Linked DNA regions of Homo sapiens: region 2 is linked to region 1. Evidence: fine-mapped expression QTL. A gene starts in region 1. The other region holds a variant in brackets. All regions are shown on one strand. Distances are between the middles of the regions. Region 1 holds the start of FHIP1A-DT (FHIP1A divergent transcript). Region 2 overlaps FHIP1A (FHF complex subunit HOOK interacting protein 1A).

The links. PIP is the estimated chance that this variant, and not a neighbour inherited with it, causes the effect. A credible set is the group of variants that fine-mapping cannot tell apart.
Region 2: its variant is the best candidate, but not a certain one, in a credible set for the expression of FHIP1A-DT in whole blood (INTERVAL, PIP 0.56).

What each region holds. Positions count from the first base shown.
Region 1 is chr4:151,399,669-151,415,874 of GRCh38, forward strand. It overlaps FHIP1A-DT (FHIP1A divergent transcript), which reads right to left and starts at 9,224. Exons shown (of 3, transcript NR_183963.1): 1 at 7,515-9,224; 2 at 5,855-5,940; 3 at 1,408-1,751. It overlaps FHIP1A (FHF complex subunit HOOK interacting protein 1A), which reads left to right and starts at 9,508. Exons shown (of 14, transcript NM_001109977.3): 1 at 9,508-9,797. RefSeq lists enhancers at 7,938-8,247, 8,079-8,778, 8,779-9,478 and silencers at 8,705-9,177, 9,298-9,467.
Region 2 is chr4:151,502,670-151,518,875 of GRCh38, forward strand. All of the region lies in intron 3 of FHIP1A (FHF complex subunit HOOK interacting protein 1A), which reads left to right. Among named protein-coding and RNA genes, the nearest start is that of FHIP1A, 100 kb to the left of the region's middle. The variant G/A (reference allele first, on the strand shown) is at 7,949.

The DNA of each region.
Region 1 (16,206 bases):
AAGGCTCAAAAAGGCACATATCTTCACTGTCTTCCTCTGTGGATTCCACTGCCACCCCCCTTCTCCTAGTGTCTTCCTCTAAAGGTTTGTCTCCTGTCCCTTCATTTATATCCCATTGTAACCCAGGTTGTAGGCCACCAGGGATCAGTGGATAATTTCCAGACAAGTGCCGGCTCTGGCGCTCTTTTATTCTACTTTCCTTTAAAAAAAATGGACAGATATTTCATATGCTGTAAAAGTCATCTTTTTAAAAGTATGCATTGAGTGGTTTTAGTATATTTACATGTAGAACCATCATTACTATCTAATTCCAGAGCATTTTCATGACACCAGAAAGAAACCCTGTATCCATTATCAGTCATGCCCCATTCCCCTCTTTAACTCTAACTGCCCAAGTCTCTTTCTGCCTGTATGGATTTGTCTATTTTGATTCTGGACATTTCATATAAATGGAACCATACAATAATATCTTTCATACCTGGCTTCTTTTATGTAACATAATATTTTCAAGCTTCATCCATATTGCAGTGTATATCCTATTGATATTTCATTCCTTTTTTTTGAGATGGAGTCTCGCTCTGTCACCCAGGATGGAGTACAGTGGCACAATCTTGGCTCACTGCAACCTTTGCTTCCCAGGTTCAAGCAATTCACCTGCCTCAGCCTCCCAAGTAGCTGGGATTACAGGGACCTGCCACCATACCTGGCTAATTTTTTTTGTATTTTTAGTAGAGACGGCATTTTACCATGTTGGCCAGGCTAGTTTTGAACTCCTGACCTCAAGTGATCCACCCGCTTCAGCCTCCCAAAATGCTAGATTATAGGTGTGAGCCATGGCGCCTGGCCACTTCATTACTTTTTATGGCCAAATAATATTCCATTATATGGGTATACCACATTTTGTTTAACCATTCATCAGTTGTTGGACATCTGGATTATTTTCACCCTTTAGATATTGTGGCTAATGATGCTATGAATATTTATGTACAAGTTTTTGTGTGGACATATGTTTTGTCTTGCATATATGCCTATGAGTGCAATTGCTGGGTCATATAGTAACTCTATGTTTAATTATTTCAGGAACTATCAGACTATTTTCCAAAGTAGCTACACCATTTTAATTTCCCCTTCTTACTGTTTTTTTAATACTTAAGTAATTCTACTTTCCTGTCATGCATTTTAAAAGATTTAAAAAAAAACCCTTCTCTCTGTCACCAAACAACCATCAATTACATGGGTCTATTTGGCTTGTGGAAATAAGCTGAGCTGTACACTTATAAGTAGTAATGGATAACTAATTCATGGAGTATTTACCCAATGAAATACTATATACAGCAAATAATAAACTACCCATAAGCACATCAACATCAACAATATGGATGAATCTTACAAATAAGAACCAGAGAGACAGATACAAAAGAGTATCTATTCTATTATTCTAGTTATATAAAGTACAAAAATAGACAAGACAAATCTATGCAGTTAGAAGTCAGGATTAACTTTGAGGGGAAATAGTGGTTGGAAGGGGACACAAGGAAGCTTCCAGATTCTGTTTCCTGATCTGGGTGCTGATTACATGGGTTTATTCAGGTTGTCGAAATAAACTGAACTATATACTTATAATACGTGCACTTGTCTTTATGTGTATTAAAAGTTTCAAAAAGAAGAAAAATGTATTCAACTTTGGGTATGCAGTATCCAGAGTTTTCCCTGCATCTTATTGCCTGATGATTCCTACAATACAAGTTGCCCTGGAAAAACAGAAAAAATAGGCAAAGTGTTCAACATAATTTATAAGGCCAATATAATGTTGATACCTAGTCACATAAAGAAAAAAACTCCTATTTTACTTATGAACATAGATGCAAAATAATGCTAAGTAAAATGTTAGGTAACAGAGTCTAATACCCTACTAAAAATATATTACAATCAAATAGGGTTAATATAAATAACGTAAATTTGGTTCAATAAAGGAAGATCTACAATAAAAATCATCACATCAAGGGACATAAACAGGAAAAATAATCACATGATCATCTCAGACACAGAAAAATCATTTTATAAAGTTCAATACCAGTTAATGATTTAAAAATCTCTTAGAAATTTCACAAGAAAATAAAGGAAGGTTTTCAACCTAACAGAGGACATCAACTAAAAATCTACAGCAAACATTCTATTTAACAGAAACTTCAGTGTGGTGCTCTCCTGTAATCCCAGCTACCCTGGAAGCTGAGGTGGGAGGATTGCTTGAGGCCAGTTAGAGGCTGTAGTGAGCTATGACCGCACCTAAGAATAGCCACTACACTCTAGCCACTACGCAGCCAGAACCCATCCCTAAAAAAAAAATTTAAAAACAAAACCAAAAACTTCAGATGCATATTATTTGGAATGTGTTTGCTATACTTAAAAGAAACTGAAATAAAAGTAGTATAAACACATAAGGATTGTTTTTTATCTCAGCAGGAAGTTCAGAGGTCGGCAATACAGCTATGGTACACGACTCCACAAAGCTCAGTGTTCTGGAGGCCCCTTTTGGCTTTCTGCACCATCATCTCATACATTTAACTTTTGCTTTCATCATCTTAAAATGGCTTCTGCTTCTCCAGGTAACCAATGTCCAAGCAGGAAGAAGTGGATGGAAAGAAGGGCAAAGATTCATGGAACCAAGCCAGCTGGGCTTTCTGAAAGTACATGCAAGGACATCCTCTTACATTCCATTGGCTTGGACTGTGTCATATAACTACCTGTAGTTGCAAAGGTGGTTGCATTTTGCTGCTATAAAAAAGCGGGGAGGGCGTTCTGGTAGAAAGATAAAAATAGAGACTTGAAATTGAATAGGCAACTAGTAGTGTCTACCTTGTATTCCCTTTAGGTTTGATAACAACACAATGATCCCCACTGATATGGTTTGGCTCTGTGTCCCCATCCAAATCTCTTCTCAAATTGTAATCCCCATGTATCAAGGGAGGGACCTGGTGGGAGGTGACTGGATCACGGGGGCGGTTTCACCCATGCTGTTTTCCTGGTAGTGAGTGAGTTCTCACATTATCTGATGCTCACACTCTCATTCTCCTGCTGCCTCGTGAAGAAGGTGCTTGCTTCCCCTTCGCCTTCTACCATGATTGTAAGTTTTCTGAGGCTTCCTCAGCCATGTGGAACTGTAAGTCAATTAAACCCCTTTCCTTTATACATCACTCAGTCTCAGGTAGTATCTTTATAGCAGTGTGAGAACGGACTAATACACCCACTATGACCACTACCTTGCAAAACAGTACTTGATGTCTTGGCCATTGAAAACAGACAAAAATAAATGTAACATACAGCTCTGTCAAGAGTTCTGCTACAAACTGCAGAAAACATATGCAGCTGATTTAAAAGAAAATAACTTATTATAATATTAAGTAGCTTATTGAATCTATAAAGTTGTCCACAGAGGTTATGTAAACTTGACAGCTATATAACTAGGAACAACACCCAAATCATATTATAGATCTACTCCAATGGACATGCCATTATTACCACTATTTGGCAAAAATGCTGCAGCATGTACTGCCAACTCCACCAGACTGAGCACTGGGTACTATTGTGGGAATCTCTGCCACTACCCTCTCTGCTAACATATTTTTATTAATTGTACTTGTTAGAAAAAAGAATTTCTTGGCCAGGCACAGTGGCTCATGCCTGTAATCCCAGCACTTTGGGAGGCCGAGGTGGGCGGATCACAAGGTCAGGAGATCGAGACCATCCTGGCTAACACGGTGAAACCCCATCTCTACTAAAAATACACAAAATTAGCTGGGTGTGGTGGTGGGAGCCTGTAGTCCCAGCTACTTGGGAGGCTGAGGCAGGAGAATGGCGTGAACCCAGGAGGTAGAGCTTGCAGTGAGCCGAGATCGTGCCACTGCACTCCAGCCTGGGTGACAGAGCGAGATTCCATCTCAAAAAAAAAAAAAGAAAAAAGAATTTCTTGACAGCATGATTACTATTATAACAGAATACACATTGTTCATTTTTGAGCTCTTTTTTTAAGAGAAGCAACTACAGAAGATAATTTAAATTTAGATTTAATCTGACTACAGATGATAATGTCTTCATGTACTTTTTACTTTCAATTCCAAGGTATCTGGGACAACTTCCCTATGTTGCATTTTAGCTTCTGCTTTTCTTAAACACAGATGATGCACTTTGTCCACTTCCTCATAGGAGTGTTAAGATCTATAGTCCTATGAGCTCTGTGAAAGAAGAATTTGTGTATGTATGTGTGTGTGTGTGAATGATGAAATACTTCTCTCCTTTGTTCATGTAATCTTGAATATCTAGTATTTAACACGTTTAATAATTTGAAAAAAATGTAATTTCAAATATAATTACATTTTAAAATGGAAATAAAGGTGGTAAGAAAAAGAGGGAGAAGTCTTGACTGGCTTCTACAATAAAGAAATATAATTTCAGTGCTTTAAAGTACTATAATAACAGAGCTGAAGAGTATAAAAAATGAATAAAGAGGGGCCAGGCATGGTGGCTCATGCCTGTAATCCCAGCGCTTTGGGAGGCCGAGGCAGGCCGATCACAAGGTCAGGAGTTTAAGACCAGCCTGGTCAACATGGTGAAGCCCCATCTCTACTAAAAATACAACAATTAGCTGGGCATGATGGTGGGCGCCTGCAATCCCAGCTACTCGGGATTGCAATTTCAAGGCAGGAGAATCACTTGAAACTGGAAGGCGGAGGTTGCAGTGAGCCGAGATTGCACCACTGCACTCTAGCCTGGACCAAAGAGTGAAACTCCGTCTCAAACAAAACAAAACAAAACAAAAAGAATAAAATGAAATACATTAATAAAAAACATGATTTAGAAACGGCTACTGTTACTAATATATGCATTTACAGCCAATATACTTATTTTTAACTTTTGCTTAATTAACTTCTAAAGCAGTAGGTTCAAATTAATTGCTGTTTAACTGGATGATGCTGTTAAAAAACGCACTGCTCCATATTGGAATTCTTATATGTTGTCAGTGGGAGCATAAATTGGTATAATCACTTTGGAAAATTGTTTGGCAGTATCAACTAAATCTCATTGTATATACAGCCTATCATCCAGCAATTCCACTCCTGAGAGAAAGTGATACCTTCCTATGGCAGAAAACTTGGAAGTAGAGAAAAGCACAGAGAATAAAAATAAACTGTCATCCTAGTACTGAGATAATCATTATTATTATTATGATTTTTTTGAGATGGAGTTTCACTCTTGTTGCCTAGGCTGAAGTGCAATGGTGCAATCTTGGCTCACTGCAACCTCCGCCTCCCAGGTTCAAGTGATTCTCTTGCTTCAGACTCACGAGTGGCTGGGATTACAGGCGCCTGCCAACACGCCCAGCTAATTGTTGTATTTTTAGTAGAGACGGGGTTTCACCTTGTTGGTCAGGCTGGTCTCGAACTCCTGACCTCAGGTGATCCACCTGCCTCGGCCTCCCAAAGTTCTGGGATTACAGGCATAAGCTACCATGCCTGGCTGAGATAATCATTATTAATATTTGTAAAGAGAATCTTACTTTACACACTTACTTTTATAGTAGACTTACTTTATACAATATTATAAATATATTTCCATGTAATAGATATTTTCCAACTTTTTTTTTTTTTAAGAAGAGACAGGGTCTCACTCTGTTGCCCAGGTGGGCGTGCAGTGGCACTCAAAGCTCACTGCAACCTCGACCTCCTGGGCTCAATTGATCCTTCTGCCTCAGCCTCCTAAGCAGTTGGGACTATAGGCCCGTACCACCACATCTGCTTATCCTTTATTTTTATTTATCTATTTTAATTTATAAAGAAAAGAGTTTTAATTGGCTTACAGTTCTGCAAGCTGTACAAGCATGGCTCCAGCATCTGCTTCTGGGTGAGGGCCTCGGGAAGCTTCCACATGAGCTACCATGCCTGTCTTCATGGTGGAAGACAAAGAGAGAGCAGACAGTGTCATATGGCAAGAATGGGAGAAGGAGACAGCCCCTTTACCTTTAGCAAGACTTATTTCCTCAAAAGAATGAGTCTGTTTCACTCCCAGAGGGCATAATGGATATGAATGAAATTCATATTTGTAGAGAGGGAACTAACATTCTTAAGTGTCTATCATGTATTAGGCATTGTGTTATACACTTCACTATGCTAATTTGTCATCCTAAAACAACCTTAACAAAGTAGGTATTACTTTCATTTTATAAGTTGAAGAAACTGAAGACCATTCAAATTATGCGCCTCTCCTTTCCTGCCTTGATTTTACCCTAACCTCCTTTTGAAGTCTTCTCCAACTTTGTTATAGCAGTTCCGTCCTTACGCTGCCCACATTCAAATTATGCGCCTCTCCTTCCTGCCTTGATTTTACCCTAACCTCCTTTTGAAGTCTTCTCCAACTTTGTTATAGCAGTTCCATCCTTATGCTGCCCAGGCCAAAAGCCTCAGAGTCCTTCTCATCTCCTTCCTTTATACCCCACATCCAATGTGAGGAAACCATCAGCTTATCATCTCTACCACTATTTCTCTGGTCCACATCTCTATCTTCTTGTCCCTCAATTATTATTATTATCTTTTTGTGAGATGGAGTCTCGCTCTGTCGCCCAGGCTGGAGTGCAGTGGTGCAATCTCGGCTCACTGCAACCTCTACTCACTGCAACCTCCGCCTCCTGAGTTCAAGTGATTCTCCTGCCTTAGCCTCCTGAGTAGCTGGGACTACAGGTGCGTGCCACCACACCTGGCTAATTTTTTGTATTTTTAGTAGAGGCGGGGTTTCACCATGTTGGCCAGGATGGTCTTGATCTCCTGACCTTGTGACCCACCCACCTTGGCCTCCCAAAGTGCTGGAATTACAGGCATGAGCCACCGCACCCGGCTGACCCTAGATTATTTTAGTAGCCTCTTAACCAGTCTCTGTGCTTCTACCCTTACACCCTACTGTTTATTCTTAACCCAGCAGTCAAAGTGATCCAATTACAATGTCAGAAAGTGTCACTTTTCTACACAAAATCCTCCAATGGCTCCAACCAACTCACTCAGAGTAAAAGCCTTACCTGATCTGCATCACCCCCACCTTTCACTTCTTTGACTTCATCTTCTCCATTCTTTCATGGTGCCTTCTGGATTGCTCCTAGTACACTTAGGCATACTCCTGCCTCAGGGCCTTTACATTTGCTATGCTTTCTGCCTGGGAAGTTGTCTGCTCAGATATCCCTAACCTCCCTCAAGTCGTTCCTCAAATGTTACCTCCTCCAGAAGCTTTCCTTGATCATCACCCCTCTCCGAACATAGCACCCCTCATACTTTCTATGTACCCTCTCTGCTTAATTTTTATCCACAGCATTTCTTTCTTTCTTTCAAAACAGGGTCTCACTCTGTCACCCAGGCTGGAATGCAGTGGGCTCAAGTGATCCTCCCACCTCAGCCTCCTGGATAGCTAGGACTACAGGTGCACGCCACCATGCCTGGCTAATTTTTAAACTTTTTGTAGATAGGGGGTCTTACTATGTTGCCCAGGTTGGGTCTCCAACTTCTGGCCTCAAGTGATCCTCCTCCTTTGGCCTCCCAAACTGCGGGATTACAGGCATGAGACAGCACTCCTAGCCTCTCCATAGCATTTCTAATCATACAGCAGTCCATATATTGTCCTTATACATTTACCATCTGTCTTTCCCACGTGGAAGAGGTAAGCTCCACGAGGGCTGGAATTGTTGTTTGTGCTCTCTGCTGTGTCCTCAACCCCTAGAAGCGTGCCTAGCATGCAAAAGGCACTCAGTATATATTTGTTGAGTAAATGAATGCTTCCCCCACCTTCCAACTGTTAGAGCAGGCCAAGGGGACCTGTTGTGCAGAACTTCACAGCTTTCTACTCTGAGCTCTATCTTCCTTGTTCTTCCCCAGCTTTTACTTAGGAGCCACTTCTTGACTGAGCTTGTCACAGGTGAAAGGCTGATGAATCTGGAGAGATACTTGTGGCAAGTACCCGGTGTTCCTGCAGTCATCCACAAGCGCAGCAGTGGTGGTAGACAGCTAGAGAAGAAAGTGTAAAGTTTGCATCCTCCAATTATCACGGTTGCAAGACAGAACTTGAAACTAGATACACCTGATTTTGGTTATCTCTGGATGCCATTCACCGAGAATGAAGGGAAGAAGATACTTCCTCCAAAGGAGAATCTGATGAGGCGCCAGCAGGCTGCTGCTGCGGTGGAAACTGCCACATCCGCTTTTGCAAACTGGTGTGGCCCCAGCTGCTTGGACTGAGGCTCAACGCAGGTTTCAGCCACTTCAACCACAGGGCTACGAACATGCCAAGAGAGCCACTAACCAAGTTTCTCATTCCTCCTCTGAGATTTAAAGTCCATCACTTCGCGACTCAAACACGCAAGAGGCGTGGGAGACGGAGGAATGGGGAAGCGAGGCGGCGCTGCCCACCTTGGCAATGGCACAGCCGCGGTCTCTGATGCAAAGGCAGGCGGCCGCGCAGGGCCGGGCCTGGGTGGGAAGGCTGGGCTCTGGGAAGGATGTCGGGGCACCCGGCAGTGCCCAAAGCCACCATCTCAAGCGTGATAGTGGGAAAATGGATGCTGCACCTGCTCTCTCATCTTGCGGGGAATCGTGATTTGGGGAAGTTTCACCTTTGTTGCAGAACTGCCCACATTAGAGCCTTCATTTCTTGGGAAGGGGTTGGCGGGAGTTGCCAGTGAAATGTGTGACACACACACGCGCCACATACTCCCCAAACCCACAGACGACTCCAGTAACGCTCTAGTTACCCTTAAAAAGTAAAACAGAACAAATCAGCAGGCCCCCTCCCTCCATCCTGGCACTTCATTAATGTCGGCCAAGGCCACATTTCCCCTGCCCACTGCAGGGAGTCTGTCAGGAGAACAACAGGCGAACGTTTGCCTCACTTGACTCAGCTCTCTTGGGGCGGTATCAGCATTTTAAAATTCACACCTAAAGGAAGGAGTCAGCAAAGGAAAGCAGAGCTGGGCCGGGGCGCCGGTGGCCGCCGTCAAACCTTTGGGAAGCAAGAAATCCGAAACGCCCGTGACGTGCGGCGTTGTCCGACTCCTTCCACTAGGCAGAACCCGAGAGACGAGCCTTTGGCGGGACGGTGAACGATTGTGCTGTGTACGGCGGTGTGCGTGCGTGAGTAAAGAGTGTGTAGCTCCGGCCAAACGCTAGCCCCCAAGGGCGCGAGTGCTACACTGCGCCCAGCTCAAGTTTCTGTGGAAACTTTCCCTCAGAGGCTCCTCCTCCTTCACCTTGGAAACCGGCGCGGGCCGTGCGGCGCGGCACTGCCTAAGTCCCCGGCGCACCTGGCGGCGGCGTGTCCCAGCGGCAGAGGCGGGGCCGGCGGCGGCGGGGGCGGGGCCGGGGCGCGCTCCCCGAGGCCTCCAGGCAGGTTGGGCCCCACCCCCGCCCCTGCCCCGCCCCGGCCCCCGCCCCCGCCCCCGCCCCCCCCGCGCTCACTAGGGAGAGGCTGGGGGGAGGCAGTGACCCACGCGCCTCAGCCCGCGGCTGACGCACCTTCGAAAAGTTGCGCTCCGACCTTCTCACGACCTACATTCTTCCCGGGCACTCCTGAGTTTGAGCCGGGCCTGGAGGACCTGGGCCAAGACTTTCGAGCGGCGGCCGCCCGAGGTGCGAGGAGCCAGCCCGGCTTTCCTCACTGGGTCCCGCGCAGGCGTCCCCGGGACCGCAGAGCAAACTTTCTGGACTATCTGAGGACACTTGTCCAGCGAGCCCCACTGCTCGGGGAGGAGGAGCCACGGCCGGGGACAGGTAGGTGCTGTGCTGGCCGGAGATTTGCGCTTGAGGGATTCTTTTATTTTAGAGGGTTGAAGGAGGAGGGAGAGTCGAAATGTCCCTTCTCTGCATCCGCCAACTGGGCAGGGGGTGCGGGCATTGGGCTGAGGGAGCAGGCATTGGGCTGGGGGCCGGCTGGGGATGTTCCAAACGAGGTCGCTGCGTCGGGCGGGGGCGCAGGGGGGAGGAGGTGACTTCTAGGGTTTCGGGCTCCGGGACGGGGCGTAACGCGGTGACTGACCCTGGGAGAGAGAGAGCCAGCTTGTTTTGACGAAGGAATATGTCATTAGGGCCCTCCATCCCATTCCTTGGTCCCAGGGTCCTCTGGGAGGCACAGGAAAAGGCAAAGAGATGTGGAGTTCAGGTTTCCCCTGTAAATCAACTTGCTTACACAGGAGACAGAGGCGGTGCCCCTCTGAGGTTTGCAGCCCTTTCCTGGTGTAAGGACTTACTGGTTAGGTAGCTGTTGCTCAATTTCGTAAATTCTGTGATGAAACTGCGTTCAAGTCGTGGTTATTATTGATAGTGTGTATGTGTTTGTGTTTCCTCTGGCTCAACAAAGGTCCCTTGTTAACTCCGCTTCTGCTAGGGAGTGGGAAGAACTACCTTGGTGTCTTATTTCAGGCCTGGTCAGAGCGAGGTGTTGGTGCAGGCGGCGGTAGCCTTGTTGGCTTGGGACTTTGGGAATCACATGAGCAGGTCTAGTGAATTAGTGTCCCAGCCTCCTGGACCCACCCATTCACAGCAGATCTAGCTTCCACTATTCAGCAGATGCTGCAGCCCCAGCTATCCAGGGACAGGGAAACCCCCCTGAAGGGAAAGAGCCAAATGTTGAGAAGGAGAGACAGCTTTCAGGAGGAGGAGTAAACAATGCCTAACAATTGTTGCTTCCCTATAGATTGGGCTTGCTCCCTTGGCTTCTCTGGAAGGGCTGTGCTATCAAATTCATCTCATTAGGAAGTCAGCTGCTCCCTGCTAATAGTCATAGCAGCCCTGATGAAATTATATAGGTCATTGAAAAATAATTCCTGCTTAATTACCTTTATCCTGTTGATTAATGAGAGGGAAGATTTCCTCTCCTTAATGTATTATGCCTGCTTGTCAGGGTCACCTGCCTGACCTCAAGTTCACTTGTACACCTGGCACTAGGCAGGATGCTGTCCCCGAAGCTGTCCACATGTAGTGAACCACAGCTGAAGTCCACGTTTGGAGAACTTCAAAGGTCTTCTTTGGACCGAAATTGAGCAGGATATTTAGTCCATAAATTTACTCTTTAATACAGTATACTTGTTGGCTTTAGGTAACTTTTCGCATAATTAAAGGTTGATATCTTTTTAGTTCCAGTTAATCCCTTTCCGCAGAGCTCATAAGAATTATGTCCATGCCTGTCTTGAAATAAATTAAGTTTGGGGTCCTATTTATCATTTGTCCTGTAGGACAAGGAACAGGATTAAACTGTGTAGGGTGGCTGGAAAGGGGCAGAGAAACTGGACATCACTGAAGTGGATTCAGAGAGTGATTGAGAGTGGTCTAAAAATTTAGGTCCAACTGCCCAGCTACCTTTTTTCTTGGCTCTCATATAAAGACATTGTGTAGGACTTTTAATGGAGGACTTGAAGACTAGAAATAAAAGGAGTGTTTTATTTTTACATAGTCAGAGTGATGCATTGCTGGACAGTTCTGTACTCTGCCTCCCAAGATTGGTTCAAAATACTTTCTCTGCTAAGTTCTTTCTTTAATAGGAACTTGATAGATAATGACTGCAAACAAGAAGCAGATGTACAAATATATTATGTAGAGATATGGAGGTAAAATGAGAAAAAACAAGAATTGCCTCTGAGGAGTGAAATTATATATATATTTTTTTTTTTTTAAAGTTAGGGTCTCTCTCTCTCTCTGGCCCAGGCTAGAGTTCAGTGGCATGATCTCGGCTCACTGCAGCCTTGATCTCCTGGGCTCAGGCAGTCCTCCCACCTTAGCCTCCTGAGTAGCTGGGACCACAGGTTCATGCCATCACACTCTGTTAATTTTTTGTATTTTCATACAGACAGGGTTTTGCCACGTTGCCCAGGCTGCCCTTGAGCTCCTGGACTCAAGCAATCCGCCTGCCTTGGTCTCCCAAAATTCTGGGATTACAGGTGTGAGCCACCATGCCTGGCCTCTTGTATTACTTTCATAAAGAAAATTTAATAAGGAACCTCCTTTCTCCATGCAAATATAAAGCAAAATTGCTTTATTTAATCTGTTTAGACACTTGATCTTTATTCTGTGTACATCTGTCTTCTAGGGTGATACGTAGGCCCAGTGAAGATCTGGATCAGATTCTGCCATTGAAACACAATTTAGATCTACTTCATCCTTATTTTTAGCAACTTCCAACCCTTGGTTCTTAGCCCAGGTAGGGGAACAGTGCTCAAGAGTGACAAGAAACTCCAGGAACTTCATTTATAGGGATCTCTTAATGAAAACAATAACAGAAGTGAACAGTTCTGTAGTGCTTTATGTTTCACAGAGTGCTTTCATGTACCATGTTTGTGCCTTGTGATTTAACCATTTTGTAGTAGATGCCATTGTGTTTAGATTACACAGGAGGAAAGCAGATGAGGTTCAGAGATAATAAGGGACTTTTTTGAGACGGAGTTTCACTCTTGTTGCCCAGGCTGGAGTGCAATGGTGTGATCTCGGCTCACTGCAACCTCTGCCTCCCAGTTCCAGCGATTCTCCTACCTCAGCCTCCTGAGTAGCTGGGATTACAGGTGCCCACCACCATGCTCAGCTAATTTTTTTTGTATTTTTAGTAGAGATGGGGTTTCGCCATGTTGGCCAGGGTGGTCTCAAACTCCTGACCTCAGGTGACCCACCCACCTCGGCCTCCCAAAGTGCTGGGATTACAGGCGTGAGCCACTGTGTTCGGCCAATAATAAGGGACTTTTATGGGCATACTCTTTGCTCCTGTATATTGTGGACTGAGACCTGAATTCAGGATTTCTGATTTACAGCCCATGCTTTCACTTTTTTCCTTGTTACATTTTGTGAAGTGGTTGGATGTGAAATGGGCTTTTCTTTTTCTTTCTTTCTTTCTTTCTTTCCTTTCTTTCCTTCCTTCCTTCCTTCCTTCCTTCCTCCCTCCCTCCCTCCCTCCCTCCCTCCCTCCCTGCCTCCCTTCTTTCTTTCTTTCTCTCTCTCTCTCTTTCTTTCTTTTTTTTTTTTTTTTGATGGAGTTTTGCTCTTGTTGCCTAGGCTGGAGTGCAATGGCGTGATCTCAGCTCACCGCAACCTCTGCCTCCCGGGTTCAAGGGATTCTCCTGCCTCAGCCTCCCGAGTAGCTAGGATTACAGGCAAGCACCACCACGCCTGGCTAATTTTGTATTTTAAGTAGAGATGGGGTTCCTCCATGTTGGTCAGGCTGGTCTCGAACTCCTGACCTCAGGTGATCCACTTGCCTTGGCCTCCCAAAGTGCTGGGATTATAGACGTGAGCCACCGTGCCTGGCCCTCTTATTTCTTATTAACCAAAATATGAGCTCATGTGGAGACAGGATGACAGGACTATATATGAATATGTACATATATGTGTATGTGTAAGTGTGTGTACACATGTAACATATAGTCTGTATAGCCTTGGCATCTCAACAGTATAGCTGTGCAATAAAATTGAAGTAACCTCCATTAAATTTGGGAGGGAGATCTTGGGAAGTGGCGTAGGTGAATAAATACCTTGATAGATTGAATAAGGAATTTTGGCAATGTCTAAAATTGAAAAACTCTGTAAATAGCAGTATAAGTGCATGATTTACAAATATAGAAGTAATTACCAGAAGAAATAGCTAAAAGAGTTGAAGGACCTTCTTTCGGAGAATGAAACTCAGGGGTGAGGAGGAGCCAGACAGGAATCTGCTGTTTTTGGCTATGTACCTTATAATATTAGATAATATTTTATACTGTGTACGTATGTATTACTTTATTTTACTTTATTTATTTTTTGAGGCAGAGTCTCGCTCTGTTGCCCAGGCTGGAGTGCGGTGGCACAATCTTAGCTCACTGCAACCTTCGCCTCTTGGGTTCAAGCCATTCTCCTGCCTCAACCTCCCGAGTAGCTGGGACTATAGGCATGCACCAACATGCTTGGCTAATTTTTGTATTTTTAGTGGAGATAGGGTTTCACCATGTTGGCCAGGCTGGTCTCGAATTCCTGGCCTCAAGTGATCCGCCTGCCTCAGTCTCCCAAAGTGCTGGGATTACAGACATGAGCCACCGCGCCTGGCCTCATATGTATTACTTAAAAAAAAAAGCCCTTTGGCAAGGATGGAGCAAAGGTCTTTTGTCAGAATTTTAGAGCCAAAATTATGTATTCCCAGTTCTTCCATTTTACAGGTGAGGAAATTGAGGTGTAGGAGTTTAAATGTTATGCTCTTGGTCACATAACTGTAGAGACAAACCTCTCCCAGACAAGGTCAACTGTAGAGACAAACCTTTCCCAGGCAGGTAGAAAGTTTTACCTTGCTAGTGATTCTTCAGTTTCCTTTCTAGGCAGTTCTTTTGCCTTCTATCTAGTTAGTGTTTGTTTGTTTTTTTTTTTTGAGACGGAGTCTCACTCTGTCGCCCAGGCTGGAGTGCAGTGGTGCAATCTCGGCTCACTGCAACCTCCGCCTTCCAGGTCCAAGTGATTCTCTTGCCTTAGCCTCCCGAGTAGCTGGGACTACAGGCATGCGCCACCATGCCCGGCTAAGTTTTGTATTTTTTTAGTAGAGATGGGGTTTCACCATGTTGGCCAGGCTGGTCTCAAACTCCTGACCTTGGGTGATCTGCCCGCCTCGGCCTCCCAAAGGGCTGGGATTACAGGCTTGAGCCACCGCGTCTGGCCTCTATCTAGTTTTTACAATCTTTGAACAGGTTACTGGACTATAGATTCAAAAGTATTTTTATCTAATTCCTTAAATTTCCATTTTGAAAATGCTTCAAATGGTTTTTCGAGTCTGCAGAATCTGTACCCTTTTGTTGTTAATTCTGTAATTACTTTTACTTAGAAGTAGAGATGTGCGGTTTGTCTGCAATGTTTAGAAGCTGGCATTCTTGCCCAGTTGAATTTGATAAATACTGGAATTTGGACTAAACTTTTATTCTCAGAAGGCATTACTAAGGGGAGATGCTAAGGGGACTTTTCCAGTATCTATGTGTTTTGCTTAATTTTGAAGTTCTGAGAGTGAGGATACTACTGCCTTCTAAAAGACAGGTAGAGACAAATGATATTTTAGAGCTATTATAAAAAGTTAACACCCTTAAGTTTATCCTTTTCTTTATAAATATGATTTTCTCCTACTTCCTTTCCAATTATATCACTAACTTAAATGAGAGTTAATTTTCTTATTACATACATGATACATATTATTCAAATTCTAAACAATATAGAAATATATAATGTTAAAAGTTAAAGTACACTGCAATGTTATATTCTGGATAAACTGCTATAAATAGATATATTTCCCTTCATTTTTCCCTCTATTTAAAAATGTTTATTATTAACGTGGTTGTTAATAACTACTGGGGTAATCCTATGCAACTTTCAACTTGGTTTTTATTTTTAACTCAATAATATACCTTGAAAATGTTTTTATGACCATACATGCACATCATTCTCATTTTGTTTTTTTTACTGGCTGTATAGTAATGCATTGAATAGATATAGTTTTTTTGGTTTTTTTTTTTGTTTTTTTTTGAGATGGAGTCTTGCTCTGTCACCCAGGCTGGAGTGCAGTGGTGCAATGTCAGCTCACTGCAACCTCTCCCTCCCAGGTTCGAGCAATTCTCCTGCCTCAGCCTCCTGAGTAGCTAGGACTACAGGTGTGCATCACCATGTCTGGCTAATTCTTGTATTTTTAGGAGAGCCAGGGTTTGGCCAGGTTGGTCTCAAACTCCTGACCTCAGGTGATCCACCTGCCTTGACCTCCCAAAGTGCTGGGATTACAGGCGTGAGCCACCATGCCTGGCCCTATAACATGGTTTATTTAAACAGCCTTTTGTTGGGAATTTGGATTGTTTTCCATTTTTCTATATTAAGAACAGTGCTTCAGAGAACATCCTTGAAAGTGTTATCATTGTACACTTGTGTTTTCTGTAGGAAAGGTTTGTGAGTCACTGTTATGAAAATGTTAAATTTCTTTTATTTACATTTCCTCTAGTAGTGTCCCTTCATTTTTAGTTATATGAACATATTCTTTCTTTCTGAATGCACAAGACTGAAGACAGAAATTATTAATAGATGACCAGCCACTGAAATAAGAGGTCATAACAGCAAAAGGTGCTGAGCTTTTAGGTAAGGTTCACCTCATTTCCTCACATTTCAGGTTCTTTTTGGTTTTAATGTTTTCCCCAAGAGAAGATAGTAA
Region 2 (16,206 bases), 100 kb after region 1:
AAGAGAAAGGGGCAATGTGCTAGACATTGAGTACAGAAGGAGAGTTTCATTTGAGGCCATTCAGTTTATTATTAATATTCTTGAACAATATACAATTTTGTGTTCAATTCATAGCAGGCAAGGACAACTAAAAACACTCTACTGGCTGCAGACCAGAGAATGCTAGAGAGGTGTCATTTCTCTGTCTTCACGCAGTCCTTACATTGTTGGTGTTGGCCCATATTTTCAATACAGCTAAAGAAATTTAATGACCGTTATACTGAAACATCTGGTTTACTACATTAACTTCATATTCTTCTTCTGAAATTGGAATGGGCCCATTATGTTTCTCCACATTTGCGCCTTATTTGTCTTTGAGGAAACAAATAAAAGTTTCACCAAAATTCTGTAACCAAATTACAGGTTCAGTTGCTCACCACTTGCGGAGTCTAATTAACAAGAGAGAGGTCTAGTATAAAGAAAGTGACTTTTTATTCCAAAGGTAGGTTAGGGGAAGAAGTACTCCTACCTTATGGATACTGCTTTGCTTTGGGAGCACAAAGCAGGGGCTTTTAAAGGGAGAACTTGGCATGAATGGCATACAGGGGAGGGAGTGAACAGGTGAGGGTCCATGTGACTCACTTTGGTACCTTATCTACCAGATGGTTGAGCTGGCGCCATCATGGGCAGAACTAGTTTTTAAAGTGGTCTTTGTCTCAGGATATTCTCCATGTAGGAAAGAGTTTTGTAGTGGGCATACTTTAGGTTGTAAATTGACTGTCATCTCTTGAGGCAATCTCCTGGTGGGAGAGGTTTTTGGCTCTGGAGCTTCCAAGCACACAGTTAGATAAGCTTGATCTGTAGACAGTGTCTGGTGAAGGGAAGATAGAGGTTCTAATTGCATTTCTAAAGAGCCAAGTAGAAAGTAGGGAACAGGGGGAAAGGAGGAAAGAGAAAAGAAGAGAAAAAAATTAAAAAAAACCCAACTCATTCTCTTTCTCTTAGAAAAATGGGAATACTTGGTTACAATCCCACAAATGAAAAAAATGCTGAATTCTTCTGGCATGCTTATTCCTTTCAGGTTCCATTTAGTTCATTGCTTCTCCCCAAGTATATTAGGACATACTAGGTTCCAAAGGCCTACTTTATTGTAACAACACCAGACTTTCTCTATAGCATAGACTCCCTGTGGGCAGATCTTAACCTCAAATCCTTTGTTCTTAGATCCTCTTTCAATTCTGTTCCCATCCTTAGGAATCAGAATTCCACTCAGATTTACTTTGAATGCAAAACAATAGGAATGTCCCCTGGGTGCATGAATCCTAACTGCACAAAACCTAAAGGTAAATGTTCTCCAACTTGTTATATGGTCATATTTGTACAAACAATAGCCCAAAGAGAAAACTTCCTTACCAAATTAGCCTTACCAACAGTAACTCGAGATCAACTATTCTAAACCTATTCCCTTTAGTCTGGTGATTCTCCTCAATTACCTTTTAAAATATATATCTCCCTACATTTAACTGGAATAGCATCTCTCAGGGAAAATGTTTGCAACTCACTTATCCTCAAACATTTATCAGAAACAAGCTACAATGCCTGTACAGTTGGCTACTGATCATTTCCACACTGAGATTTTTTTTCCTCTGGCTGTGATTTAGTAATACCAGCTTTGGAAAAATTCTAGGTTAGACTTAACATGAGTATCTCCTTCAGCATGGAACACTGGGCCCTCAGTGGTTTATTAAGCCAGTTATTTAAGTGAATAGAAAAGAAAATCAGGACTGTATCCCCAGATACTTCCTCAGCCAGTATATTACTCAGGATGTTTGAAGTTATACATGATAGAAACCCAACTCAAACCTGTTTAAGCAGAACAAGAAATTTATTAGCTCATCTAGCTGGGAAAAAATTTTATGTTATGTTATGTTATGTTATGTTATGTTATGTTATGTTATGTCATGTTATGTTATGTCATGTTATGTTATTTTGAGACGGAGTCTTGTTCTGTCGCCCAGGCAGAAGTGCAGTGGTGCGATCTCGGCTCACTGCAACCTCTGCCTCCTGGGTTCCAGCAATTCACTTGCTTCAGCCTCCCAGATAGCTGGGATTACAGGCATGTGTCACCATGCCTAATTTTTGTATTTTTAGGAGAGAAGGGGTTTCACCACGTTGGCCAGGCTGGTCTCAAACTGCTGCCTGCAGGTGATCCACGCACCTCGGCCTCCCAACGTGCTAGGATTATAGGAGGGAGCCGCCGCGCCCAGCCTGGGAAGAAATTTTAACTCATAAAATAGAAGAAAACTGTCAGGACTCTACTATCAGAGAAATTCATTTGCTCTTGCCCATTACCCCCCGACCCAGTCTCTGTTTGTCTCTGTGTCTCCTTGCTTCCCTTTCTTCTACTGTATGTATGTCCTCCATGTGACACAGGAAGTAAGCTCCAGGCTATCAATTGTCCTGTACTTCTATCCTAAAAACGTAAATGTCTTACCCACTAGATTGTATCACAAAAGTTCTAGGGAGGGTTCTTACTTGTCTAATGAGATCATTTGCTTCTCCCTGAACACATCACTGTAGCCTGGAAAATGGGGGTCTCTGATTAGCTAGGCCTGGGTCACATTGCCTACTTTCGTGATGATGAATAGAAGATAGGAATTGGGGAGGCTATAGACAAACATGATTATTATCCTTACAAAACTACATGAAATAAGAAAGGAGTCCCCAAATGGAAGGGGCTGCTATTACCAAATGGCAATGAGGGAAAAACATTCAGGACACCCATAATCATTACCTATTACAGTCTATCATCGACCCCTTCCATGCAAAGGTGAAGTGGCCATTTATTCCAGTGTCATTGCTAGACTTCTTAACATTTTTCAGAAGGGGACAGCAATCTGCCACTCAGATGACCACTGTGAAGCATATGAATATATTCTTGATCGGTAATTTTGAATAATTGAACGCTGAATGTTCACAAAAAGAGAAAAATCTTTAATTCTCTGCTGTTGAGTCTTTATCAAAAGCTTAGTTTTAATAAATAACATTCAAGTGGGCATGGTGTGAGCCTGTAGTCCCACCTACTCAGGAGGCTGAGAAGAAAGGATCACTTGATACCAGGAGTTCAAGACCAGCCTTGGCAACATAGTGAAAATTTTTTAAAAATTGAAGGAAGATTACACAAAAGATTTTCTGTCCATCTATAACTACTGGTTACTTTCCAACAGCCAGTTTACCCTTCTTTTTTTGTTGAATGATATTGTGGGAAATTGGATAAAGGAATTTTTTTCTTGAGATAGGGTCTTGCTCTGTCACCCAAGCTGGAGTACAGTGACATGATCAGGGCTCACTGGAACTTCGAACTCCTGAGCTCAAGTGATCCTCCCACCTCAGCCTCCTGAGTAGCTGAGTCTACAGCACATGCCACCATGCATGGCTAATTTTTTCATTTTTGTAGAGGTGGGTGTCTCACTGCGTTGCCCAGGCTGGCCTCTAACATTCCCCCTGTCTTGGCCTCTCCAAGTGCTAGTATTACAGGTGTGAGCCACTGTGCCTGGCCTAAATGGGGGAATGAAATTGACCTCGGTGGTGAGTAGGAAGAGAAGGGCCATTTTTGGAACAGGATAGTTAATAAAATATTTACAATGACTGCAAGGCTACACTGAGTTTTCTATGAACTTTGTTAAGGAAGTATTTTCACTAAATGAAAAGAAGTATATTGCAGTATATTGTCTTAGTCTATTTATGTTGCTATAAAGAAATACCTGAGGCCGAGTTATTTATAAAGAAATGAGGTTGGTTTGGCTCATGGTTCTGTAGGCTGTAAAATAAGCATGGCACCAGCATCTGCTTCTGGTGAGGGCCTTGGGAAACCTCTACTCATTGCGGAAGGTGAAGAGAAGCTGCTGTATGTGGAGGTCACATGGTAAGAGAGCAGAAGCAAGAGAGAGAGGGGAGGGAGTACCGGGCTTTTTTTAACAGTCAGTTCTTGTGGGAACTAAGAGTGAGAAGTTATTCACTCCTAAGAAAATGGCACCAAGCCCTTCATCAAGGATCCACCCTCATGATCCAAGCATCCCCCACCAGGCCGCATCTCCAATATTGGGAATCAAATTTCAACATGAGACTTGGAGGGGACACATATCTAAACTATATCACATGCCTTCAAAGAGTGCTGAATTAACATAAAAATATGAAACCAGTTATGTAATATGGGAAGAGATTTAGAATTGTAATTATTTTTTAAATTTATTTACAAACAACTTTGCTTCCTGGGACAGAGGACAGGTCTTCCCATTTCAACAAAAAATAAATCAAATATGACATGCCATTAGCACATAAGGCAAAAATGAGACTTCCATAATCTTGAACACAAGGTACTTGTTTCTAGTTGAGATTTCCTACCCAGAATGGCACTGCTTCATTAAGTGATTCATTCCACTACCTCTATTTATGCTGTGAAAGCCTTTCCCCTGCCCCCCCACTTTTTTTTTGAGATATGGTCTCACTCTGTCACCCAGGACATAGTGCAGTGGCATGACCACAGCTCACTGCAGCCTTGATCTCCCAGGCTCAAGTGATCCTCCCAGCTCAGCCTCCCAAGTATCAGGGACCACAGGCTTGCACCACCACACCTGGCTAATTTTTAAATTTTTTGTAGTGATGGGGTCTCGCTATATTGCCCAGGCTAGTCTCCAACCCCTGGGCTCAAACAGTCCTCCTGCCTTGGCCTCCCAAAGTGCTAGGATTACAATAAGGAATGAGTGAGGAAAAAATGAGAAAATAAGAAAAAATGTGAAAAGTTAGAACATGTTATCTATTATTTTTAACCTAGATTATTTATTTTTTCCCTCTTTCCATTTAATATGTGTATTTATTAGTATTTGATAGTTAAGGATTATCTAGTGGATTTTAATTTTCATATCATTATACATTGCCAAGTGCTGTGGCAGATGATCTTAGATGCATATTGTATGTTATAGGATATGCTTTCTTGGCTATTAAGTGAACAAGGGCATCTATAATGTTTTCGATATTTATTTTCAAAATTGTAATGACCCATAGAAAAATCCCTACTGCTCTCCTCATCCCCCACCTCCTTATGGTTTAAACACGTTGAGAACCACAGTTCTGTCCTCTGAGAGAGAGATGGAGATATTTACAGGGATAGAAGGGATCAGGAGCTGAAAAGAATGGTAAAGGCTATTGCTTACCAGTGAGATTGTGTTATATATTATTTAAACAGGGGAGGTAAATGTTTCTGATCCTGGAAGCTTGAGTAGTACTGAACTTAGAGTCTCTTTCTTGACGCATTTTGAATCTGAAGGATTCTGAAGAAGATAGAATATAGAATGAAAACTGAAGAGGCTATTTTGAGGTAAAGACTGGAGGAAGTGGTACAGGAAGACCAAGAAATCAGGCAAGGCCTTATCCAGCAGGTTTATAAAAGGTTTGGAAGAGGCACAGAGATGGAACTAGGTAGATAAAGCAGGAGTTACAAAACAGGATTGCAGAATTTTATGTGGCTCTGTGCTTTTGAGTAACTCAATTTTTATTTAATCTTAGAATATCTCAGAGAGATGCAATATTTACAAATGGAAAACAACCCCTTTTGGAACTTAAGATCTGGGAAAGAACAAAGCAGGCACAATAATTTGGGGAGAAAGATTCGTGGGTCCTGCCTTCATGTGCAGCCTAGTAATGTTAGGTGTACTGAGGTCTGTCCACTGGCCAGGGTTGTCTCCTTTGGTTGCTGGTTCTGGAATTGTTAGTCTCTTGCCTTGAGCTGGGATCTGGCCCATCTAGAAATTTCCCATCAGGAATACGTGGCTGTAGGTGGTCCAGGGCTGAAGCTATAGGTAAATGATGAGTGGTGAGAAAGAACAGGCTGCCTTCTTCTCGCCCTGTAGGTGAACAGTAGCACACCCTCTATCCCTAACCATTGTTTAAACCAAAAAATTCAGCAGTATACTTGCATAGAAAGGCTCTCAGAATCAAAGTTTGACACTTTTACTCTTGGAAGGCTTAGAATCATGGGCTTACCAAAAATAGGTGACTTGGACTTGGAACCCACTGAGTCCTGGAACCAGGTAATGCTGGTTTCTTGGGATTGACTTGACCCTGTCAGAGACAGAGCGGAGCAAACAGCCTGCTCAAAGATTGGAAAAGTCCATTTCCCTACCAGTCAGCATTTACATACTCTCTTTCTCCCCAGCCAGCCCTCCCTAAAAACTACCCACAATGTTGAAAGAGCACTCCTCTTAAAACTTCTGTCCCCTCCCAAAAAATCTAGGAAACCCTTAAAACAACAGTTTTTCCTCCTTTTGGGTTTGGATGAAATTCCTCTCTTTGAGCAGGTGTCAGACATTCTTAAGCAGTGCTACAGTGCTAGGATGGGGCTTCCCATGTACAAATGAATACTAAATAAATATTACTCGAGGAGAGTAAAGGAGCTGGGAAGCAAACTGACTTTTTCAGTCACTGGCATGACTGGAAGCATTTATTAAGTATTTTTTTTGTTTGTTTGTTTTTTTTGAGACAGTCTCACTCTGTCGCCCAGGCTGGAGTGCAGTGGCGTGATCTCGGCTCATCACAACCTCCGCCTCCTGGGTTCACGCCATTCTCCTGCCTCAGCCTCCCAAGTAGCTGGGACTACAGGCACCCGCCACCACACCTGGTTAATTTTTTTTTGTATTTTTAGTAGAGACGGAGTTTCATCACATTAGCCAGGATGGTCTCGATCTCCTGACCTCGTGATCCGCCCGCCTCAGCCTCCCAAAGTGCTGGGATTACAGGCGTGAGCCACCTTGCCTGGCCAAGTTCTTTACCTTCCTGGGGTAGTGAGCCAGGGATGGTACAGACTACATTAGCAGATATGACTTCTGCCCTTGGAGACCGAGGGCACCATTTGTGAGCTCATTTTTGTGTGAAATGTACCTCGGTTGTCATTCTCAGCTGACACATAAGTAAATAGTGGTCGGGGCAGGGAATAATGGTGACCAATAGAAGGCTAGCTTTCAGGTAGACTGCACCTCAGACGCCTCCTTTGTTCATTCCACATTCCTTTCCCGTTGAGCTGCTCAAAGTACGTTAAAAATACTGTCTCTATGTTTGTGTGTGTGTGTGTGTGTGTGTGTGTGTAGGTATATATACATTTAAAGAAATTAATTTCCCCCCACGATATATCTCTCTGGAATATTATGATCTGGATTGGAAACATCAGCTTGGTCAAGGAATGATTTATCTTTCTTTGTTGGGCAGGAACCTTTTGGGAGGCCCAATAATTTTCCTGCAATCTAAAGTATCTTTAAAACATGGCAGGTCCTGGACAGGGTTGGAAACTGGAAGGAGAGATTGCTGTTCCTACTCTGGCCCTTTCCTTTTCCATGTGCCTGCAAACTTCCTGCTGCTTTTAGCTCCCTCACTTTACACATGGCCTGGGACCCTCCCTGCCAGCATTTTTTTTTTCTTTTTTTGGAGTCATGGTCTCACTGTCATCCAGGCTGGAGTGCAGTGGTGCAGTCATGGCTCACTACAGACTCAAGCTCCTGGGTTCAGGTGATCCTTCCACCTCAGCTTCCTGAGTAGCTGGTACCACAGATGCATGCCACTGTGCCCACTAATATTTTTTTCAATTTTTTGTAGAGATGGGGGTCTTACTGTGTTGCCCAGGCTGGTCTCAAACTCCTGGCCTCAAGCTGTCCTCCCACCTTGGCCTCTCAAAGTGCTGGGATTTATAAGCATGAGCTACCATGCCTGGCCCTATCAGCATTTTAAAAGAGATTTTTTTATTTTGAAATAATTTTAGATTTACAGAAAAGTTGCAAAAATAGTATGGAGAGTTCTTGTAGACCCTTCACCCAGCTTCCCTTAATGTTAACCTCTTACTTAACCTGTTTGCAGTTTGATGTGTGATTTCTACTGAGTGCATTTTTTGAACCTCATCTGTCCTAGGGATCTTACTATAGTC[G/A]GGATTCAGCGTTGACATGGTTCCTTTCTCTTGCCTTCAAGGAGCTAGCAATCTAGCAGTGGGTTTTAGTGACTTAATGTTTTATCTTCTCACTTTTACATTTAAAAATGTTTTTCTGGTAACAGCAGTAAGGAATCTAAAGGTAACAGTTTCTAGTGATCAAATTTCAGCTACAGTAGAATCTGGATGAAGGAGACATTTTTGAATTGAGAGTCTTTGCTGGGACTCTTGAAATGGCTGTTTATTTATTGATTTTTCTATTCATTTAGCATTTATTGACTGTCCCATATGTGACAGATACCATACTAATCTCTAGAGATAACTAAGTTGAATTTCAAGATGTAGCTCTTGCCTTTAAAGACTTTATGATCTTTTGGGGGAAGTATACAATTGCAAAACAATATGGAAATGCTGTGGTAGAGTTACTTACAGGCTACTCTGGAAAACATGGAAGGAGACCCTGAATTCCAGCCTGATATGACAAATCCCCATTAGGCTGCTCCAACTAGACAGAGAGCTCTTTGGAAACTGTGAAATAATATGTATTATTCAATCTAAAATTATAATTAAGATGGCCTAGGTAAATTCACGGGACTATCAGTCCTTTGGTATTTTACAAATGGATAATATATTATTCGTCCATGGGGTAGAGTTAAAATATTCATGAAATGCAATCCCGAGGTGGAGCCAAGATGGCCGAATAGGAACCGCTCCGGTCTACAGCTCCTAGTGTGAGCGACGCAGAAGACGGGCGATTTCTGCATTTCCATCTGAGGTACCGGGTTCATCTCACTAGGGAGTGCCAGACAGTGGGCGCAGGACAGTGGGTGCAGCGCACCGTGCGCGAGCCGAAGCAGGGCAAGGCACTGCCTCACTCAGGAAGCGCAAGGGGTCAGGGAGTTCCCTTTCCTAGTCAAAGAAAGGGGTGACAGACGGCACCTGGAAAATCGGGTCACTCCCACCCTAATACTGCGCTTTTCCCATGGGCTTAAAAAACGGCGCACCAGGAGATTATATCCCGCACATGGCTCGGAGAGTCCTACACCCACAGAGTCTCGCTGATTGCTAGCACAGCAGTCTGAGATCAAACTGCAAGGTGTCAGTGAGGCTGGGGGAGGGGCGCCCGCCATTGCCCAGGCTTGCTTAGGTAAATAAAGCAGGCAGGAAGCTTGAACTGGGTGGAGCCCACCACAGCTCAAGGAGGCCTGCCTGCCTCTGTAGGCTCCGCCTCTGGGGGCAGGGCACAGACAAACAAAAAGACAGCAGTAACCTCTGCAGGCTTAAATGTCCTTGTCTGACAGCTTTGAAGAGAGCAGTGGTTCTCCCAGCACGCAGCTGGAGATCTGAGAATGGGCAGACTGCCTCCTCAAGTGGGTCCCTGACCCCTGACCCCCGAGCAGCCTAACTGGGAGGCACCCCCTAGTAGGGGCAGACTGACACCTCACACGGCCGGGTACTCCTCTGAGACAAAACTTCCAGAGGAACGATCAGACAGCAGCATTCGTGGATCACGAAAATCCGCTCTTCTGCAGCCACCACTGCTGGTACCCAGGCAAACAGGGTCTGGAGTGGACCTCTAGCAAACTCCAACAGACCTGCAGCTGAGGGTCCTGTCTGTTAGAAGGAAAACTAACAAACAGAAAGGACATCCACACCAAAAACCCATCTGTACATCACCATCATCAAAGACCAAAAGTAGATAAAACCACAAAGATGGGGAAAAAACAGAGCGGAAAAAACAGAGCAGAAAAAGTGGAAACTCTAAAAAGCAGAGCGCCGCTCCTCCTCCAAAGGAACACAGCTCCTCACCAGCAACGGAACAAAGCTGGACGGAGAATGACTTTGACGAGTTGAGAGAAGAAGGCTTCAGATGATCAAACTACTCCGAGCTACAGGAGGAAATTCAAACCAAAGGCAAAGAAGTTGAAAACTTTGAAAAAAATTTAGACGACTGTATAACTGGAATAACCAATACAGAGAAGTGCTTAAAGGAGCTGATGGAGCTGAAAGCCAAGGCTCGAGAACTACGTGAAGAATGCAGAAGCCTCAGGAGCCGATGCGATCAACTGGAAGAAAGGGTATCAGTGATGGAAGATGAAATGAATGAAATGAAGTGAGAAGGGAAGTTTAGAGAAAAAAGAATAAAAAGAAATGAACAAAGCCTCCAAGAAATATGGGACTATGTGAAAAGACCAAGTCTACCGCTGATTGGTGTACCTGAAAGTGATGGGGAGAATGGAACCAAGTTGGAAAACACTGTGCAGGATATTATCCAGGAGAGCTTTCCCAATCTAGCAAGGCAGGCCAACATTCAAATTCAGGAAATACAGAGAACGCCACAAAGATACTCCTCGAGAAAAGCAACTCCAAGACACATAATTGTCAGATTCACCAAAGTTGAAATGAAGGAAAAAATGTTAAGGGCAGCCAGAGAGAAAGGTCAGGTTACCCTCAAAGGGAAGCCCATCAGACTAACAGCGGATCTCTCGGCAGAAACTCTACAAGCCAGAAGAGAGTGGGGGCCAATATTCAACATTCTTAAAGAAAAGAATTTTCAACCCAGAATTTCATATCCAGCCAAACTAAGCTTCATAAGTGAAGGAGAAATAAAGTCCTTTACAGACAAGCAAATGCTGAGAGATTTTGTCACCACCAGGCTTGCCCTAAAAGAGCTCCTGAAGGAAGCACTAAACATGTAAAGGAACAATCAGTACCAGCCACTGCAAAATCATGCCAAATTGTAAAGACCATCGAGGCTAGGAAGAAACTGCATCAACTAATGAGCAAAATAACCAACTAACATCATAATGACAGGATCAAATTCACATATAACTATATTAACTTTAAATGTAAATGGACTAAATGCTCCAATTAGAAGACACAGACTGGCAAATTGGATAAAGAGTCAAGACCCATCAGTGTGTTGTATTCAGGAAACCCATCTCATGTGCAGAGACACACATAGGCTCAAAATAAAAGGATGGAGGAAGATCTACCAAGCCAATGGAAAACAAAAAAAGGCAGGGGTTGCAATCCTAGTCTCTGATAAAACAGACTTTAAACCAACAAAGGGCAAAAGAGAGAAAGAAGGCCATGACATAATGGTAAAGGGATCAATTCAACAAGAAGAGCTAACTATCCTAAATATATATGCACCCAATACAGGAGCACCCAGATTCATAAAGCAAGTCCTGAGTGACCTACAAAGAGACTTAGACTCCCACACAATAATAATGGGAGACTTTAACACCCCACTGTCAACATTAGACAGATCAACGAGACAGAAAGTTAACAAGGATACCCAGGAATTGAACTCAGCTCTGCACCAAGCGGACCTAATAGACATCTACAGAACTCTCCACCCCAAATCAACAGAATATACATTTTTTTCAGCACCACACCACACATATTCCAAAATTGACCACATAGTTGGAAGTAAAGCTCTCCTCAGCAAATGTAAAAGATCAGACATTGTAACAAACTGTCTCTCAGACCACAGTGCAATCAAATTAGAACTCAGGATTAAGAAACTCACTCAAAACCAATCAACTACATGGAAACTGAACAACTTGCTCCTGAATGACTACTGGGTACATAACGAAATGAAGGCAGAAATAAAGATGTTCTTTGAAACCAATGAGAACAAAGACACAGCATACCAGAATCTCTGGGACACATTCAAAGCAGTGTGTAGAGGGAAATTTATAGCACTAAATGCCCACAAGAGAAAGCAGGAAAGATCCAAAATTGACACCCTAACATCACAATTAAAAGAACTAGAGAAGCAAGAGCAAACACATTCAAAAGCTAGCAGAAGGCAAGAAATAACTAAAATCAGAGCAGAACTGAAGGAAATAGAGACACAAAAAACCCTTCAAAAAATTAATGAATCCAGGAGCTGGTTTTTTGAAAGGATCAACAAAATTGATAGACCGCTAGCAAGACTAATAAAGAAGAAAAGAGAGAAGAATCAAATAGACACAATAAAAAATGGTAAAGGGCATATCACCACCGATCCCACTGAAATACAAACTACTATCAGAGAATACTACAAACACCTCTATGCAAATAAACTAGAAAATCTAGAAGAAATGGATAAATTCCTCGACACATACATCCTCCGAAGACTAAACCAGGAAGAAGTTGAATCTCTGAATAGACCAATAACAGGCTCTGAAATTATGGCAATAATCAATAGCTTACCAACCAAAAAGAGTCCAGGACCAGATGGATTCACAGCCGAATTCTACCAGAGGTACAAGGAGGAACTGGTATCATTCCTTCTGAAAATATTCCAATCAATAGAAAAAGAGGGAATCCTCCCTAACTCATTTTATGAGGCCAGCATCAACCTGATACCAAAGCCAGGCAGAGACACAACCAAAAAAGAGAATTTTAGACCAATATCCTTGATGAACATTGATGCAAAAATCCTCAATAAAATACTGGCAAACTGAATCCAGCAGCACATCAAAAAGCTTATCCACCATGATCAAGTGGGCTTCATCCCTGGGATGCAAGACTGGTTCAATATATGCAAATCAATAAATGTAATCCAACATATAAACAGAACCAAAGACAAAAACCACATGATTATCTCAATAGATGCAGAAAAGGCCTTTGACAAAATTCAACAACCTTCATGCTAAAAACTCTCAATAAATTAGGTATTGATGGGACATATCTCAAAATAATAAGAGCTATCTATGACAAACCCACAGCCAATATCATACTGAATGGGCAAAAACTGGAAGCATTCCCTTTGAAAAGTGGCACAAGACAGGGATGCCCTCTCTCACCACTCCTATTCAAAATAGTGTTGGAAGTTCTGGCCAGGGCAATTAGGCAGGAGAAGGAAATAAAGGGTATTCAATTAGGAAAAGAGGAAGTCAAATTATCCCTGTTTGCAGATGACATGATTGTATATCTAGAAAACCCCATTGTTTCAGCCCTAAATCTCCTTAAGCTGATAGCAACTTCAGCAAAGTCTCAGGATACAAAATCAATGTACAAAAATCACAAGCATTCTTATACACCAATAACAGACAGAGAGCCAAATCATGAGTGAACTCCCATTCACAATTGCTTCAAAGAGAATAAAATACCTAGGAATCCAACTTACAAGGGATGTGAAGGACCTCTTCAAGGAGAACTACAAACCACTGCTCAAGGAAATAAAAGAGGATACAAACAAATGGAAGAACATTCCATACTCATGGGTAGGAAGAATCAATATCGTGAAAATGGCCATACTGCCCAAGGTAATTTATAGATTCAGTGCCATCCCCATCAAGCTACCAATGACTTTCTTCACAGAATTGGAAAAAACTACTTTAAAGTTCATATGGCACCAAAAAAAGAGCCCACATCGCCAAGTCAATCCTAGGCCAAAAGAACAAAGCTGGAGGCATCACACTACCTGACTTCAAACTATACTACAAGGCTACAGTAACCAAAACAGCATGGTACTGGTACCAAAACAGAGATGTAGATCAATGGAAGAGAACAGAGCCCTCAGAAATAACGCCGCATGTCTACAACTGTTTGATCTTTGACAAACCTGACAAAAACAAGCAATGGGGAAAGGATTCCCTATTTAATAAATGGTGCTGGGAAAACTGGCTAGCCATATGTAGAAAGCTGAAACTGGATCCCTTCCTTACACCTTATACAAAAATTAATTCAAGATGGATTAAAGACTTAAACGTTAGACCTAAAACCATAAAAACCCTAGAAGAAAACCTAGGCATTACCATTCAGGACATAGGCATGGGCAAGGACTTCATGTCTAAAACACCAAAAGCAATGGCAGCAAAAGCCAAAATTGACAAATGGGATCTAATTAAACTCAAGAGCTTCTGCACAGCAAAAGAAACTACCATCAGAGTGAACAGGCAACCTACAAAATGGGATAAAATTTTTGCAACCTACTCATCTGACAAAGGGCTAATATCCAGAATCTACAATGAACTCAAACAAATTTACAAGAAAAAAACAAACAACCCCATCAAAAAGTGGGCAAAGGACAGGAACAGACACTTACCAAAAGAAGACATTTATGCAGCCAAAAGACACATGAAAAAATGCTCACCATTACTGGCTATCAGAGAAATGCAAATCAAAACCACAATGAGATACCATCTCACACCAGTTAGAATGGCAATCATTCAAAAGTCAGGAAACAACAGGTGCTGGAGAGGATATGGAGAAATAGGAACACTTTTCCACTGTTGGTGGGACTGTAAACTAGTTCAACCATTGTGGAAGTCAGTGTGGTGATTCCTCAGGGATCTAGAACTAGAAATACCATTTGACCCAGCCATCCCATTACTGGGTATATACCCAAAGGACTATAAATCATGCTGCCATAAAGACACATGCACACGTATGTTTATTGCGGCACTATTCTCAATAGCAAAGACTTGGAACCAACCCAAATGTCCAACAATGATAGACTGGATTAAGAAAATGTGGCACATATGCACCATGGAATACTATGCAGCCATAAAAAATGATGAGTTCGTGTCCTTTGTAGGGACATGGATGAAATTGGAAATCATCATTCTCAGTAAACTATCGCAAGAACAAAAAACCAAACACCGCATATTCTCACTCATAGGCGGGAATTGAACAATGAGAACACATGGACACAGGAAGGGGAACATCACATCTGGGGACTGTTGTGGGGTTGGGGGAGGGGGGAGGCATAGCTTTAGGAGATATACCTAATGCTAAATGATGAGTTAATGGGTGCAGCACACCAGCATGGCACATGTATACATATGTAACTAACCTGCACATTGTGCACATGTACCCTAAAACTTAAAGTATAATAATAATAATGATAAATTTAAAAAAATATATATTCATTAAATGCAGCAATATGGCGACTTTGGTTGTCTTCCCAGCCCTTTTTCTGTGCATATTTTTACCTTTATAAAACTTAAATGTGGTTATTTTGTAGATGCTGTTTTATATCCTGCCATATATATATTCATGCACTGCATAAAGATGCCTTGGTCAATGATAGATGGAATGTAGAACTGTGGTCCCCTAAGATTATAATGGACCTGAAAAATTGCTACCTTCTAGTGATGTTCTGATGATTCTGACCATGTGCAAGCCTAGGCTAACGTGTGTGTTTGTGTCTTAGCTTTTAACAAAAAAGTTTTAAAATTAAAATAAATAAAAAACATTAAAAATCCAAAAAAGCTTATAGAATAAGGATATAAATAAAGAAAATATTTTTGTACAGCTGTACAATCTGTGTTTTAGGCAAAGTGTTAATACAGAGAGTCAAAAAGTTCAAAAAATTAAAAAGTTTATACAGTAAAAAAGTTATAGTAAGCTAAGGTTAATTTATTATTGAAGAAAGAAAATATTTTAAGAATAAATTTAGTGTAGCCTAGATGTACAGTATTTATAAAGTCTATAGCAGTGTACAGTCATGTCCTAGGCCTTCACATTCACTCACCACTCACTGACACACCCAGAGCAACTTTCAGTCCTGCAAGCTCTATTCATGGTAAGTGCCCTAAGCAGGTGTATGATTTTTTATTTTTCATACTGTGTTTGTACCTTTTCTATGTTTAGATAGCTTTAGATACACAAATATTTACCATCATGTTACAGTTGCCTGCAATATTCATTACTACCATGCTGTACAGGTTTGTAGCCTAGGAGCAATAGGCTATACCAGATAGTCTAGGTGTGTAGTATACTGTACTATCTAGGTTTATGAAAGTATACTCTATGATATTTTCACAATGACAAAATCATGTAAGGATGCGTTTCTCAGAATGTAGCCCATTGTTAAACAACATATGACTATATGTTTTCATATACTCTACATTTCAGCAGATATTCTTCTCATACTATGGTTTTCAATATTTTATCATGAAAAATTTCAAACATAGAGCAAAGTTGAAGGAATTTTATAGTAAAGAAAGACCTAACCCATCATCCAAATTCTACCATTAACATTGTTCTATACTTGCTTTGTCACATAACTATCCATTTCCCTCCCTCCCTCCCTCCCTCCCTCCCTTCCTTCTTTCCCTTTCCTCCCCTCCCCTCCCCTTTCTTTCGTTTGAATGCGGTGGTGCAATCATGGCTCACTGCCACCTTGAACTCCTGAGCTCAAGTGATCCTCATACCTTAGCCTCCCGAATACCTGGGACTGCAGGCATGCGCCACCATGCCCAGCTAATTTTTTAAAACTGTTTTTATTGTGACAAAAAATTGTCAATCTGCAAAAC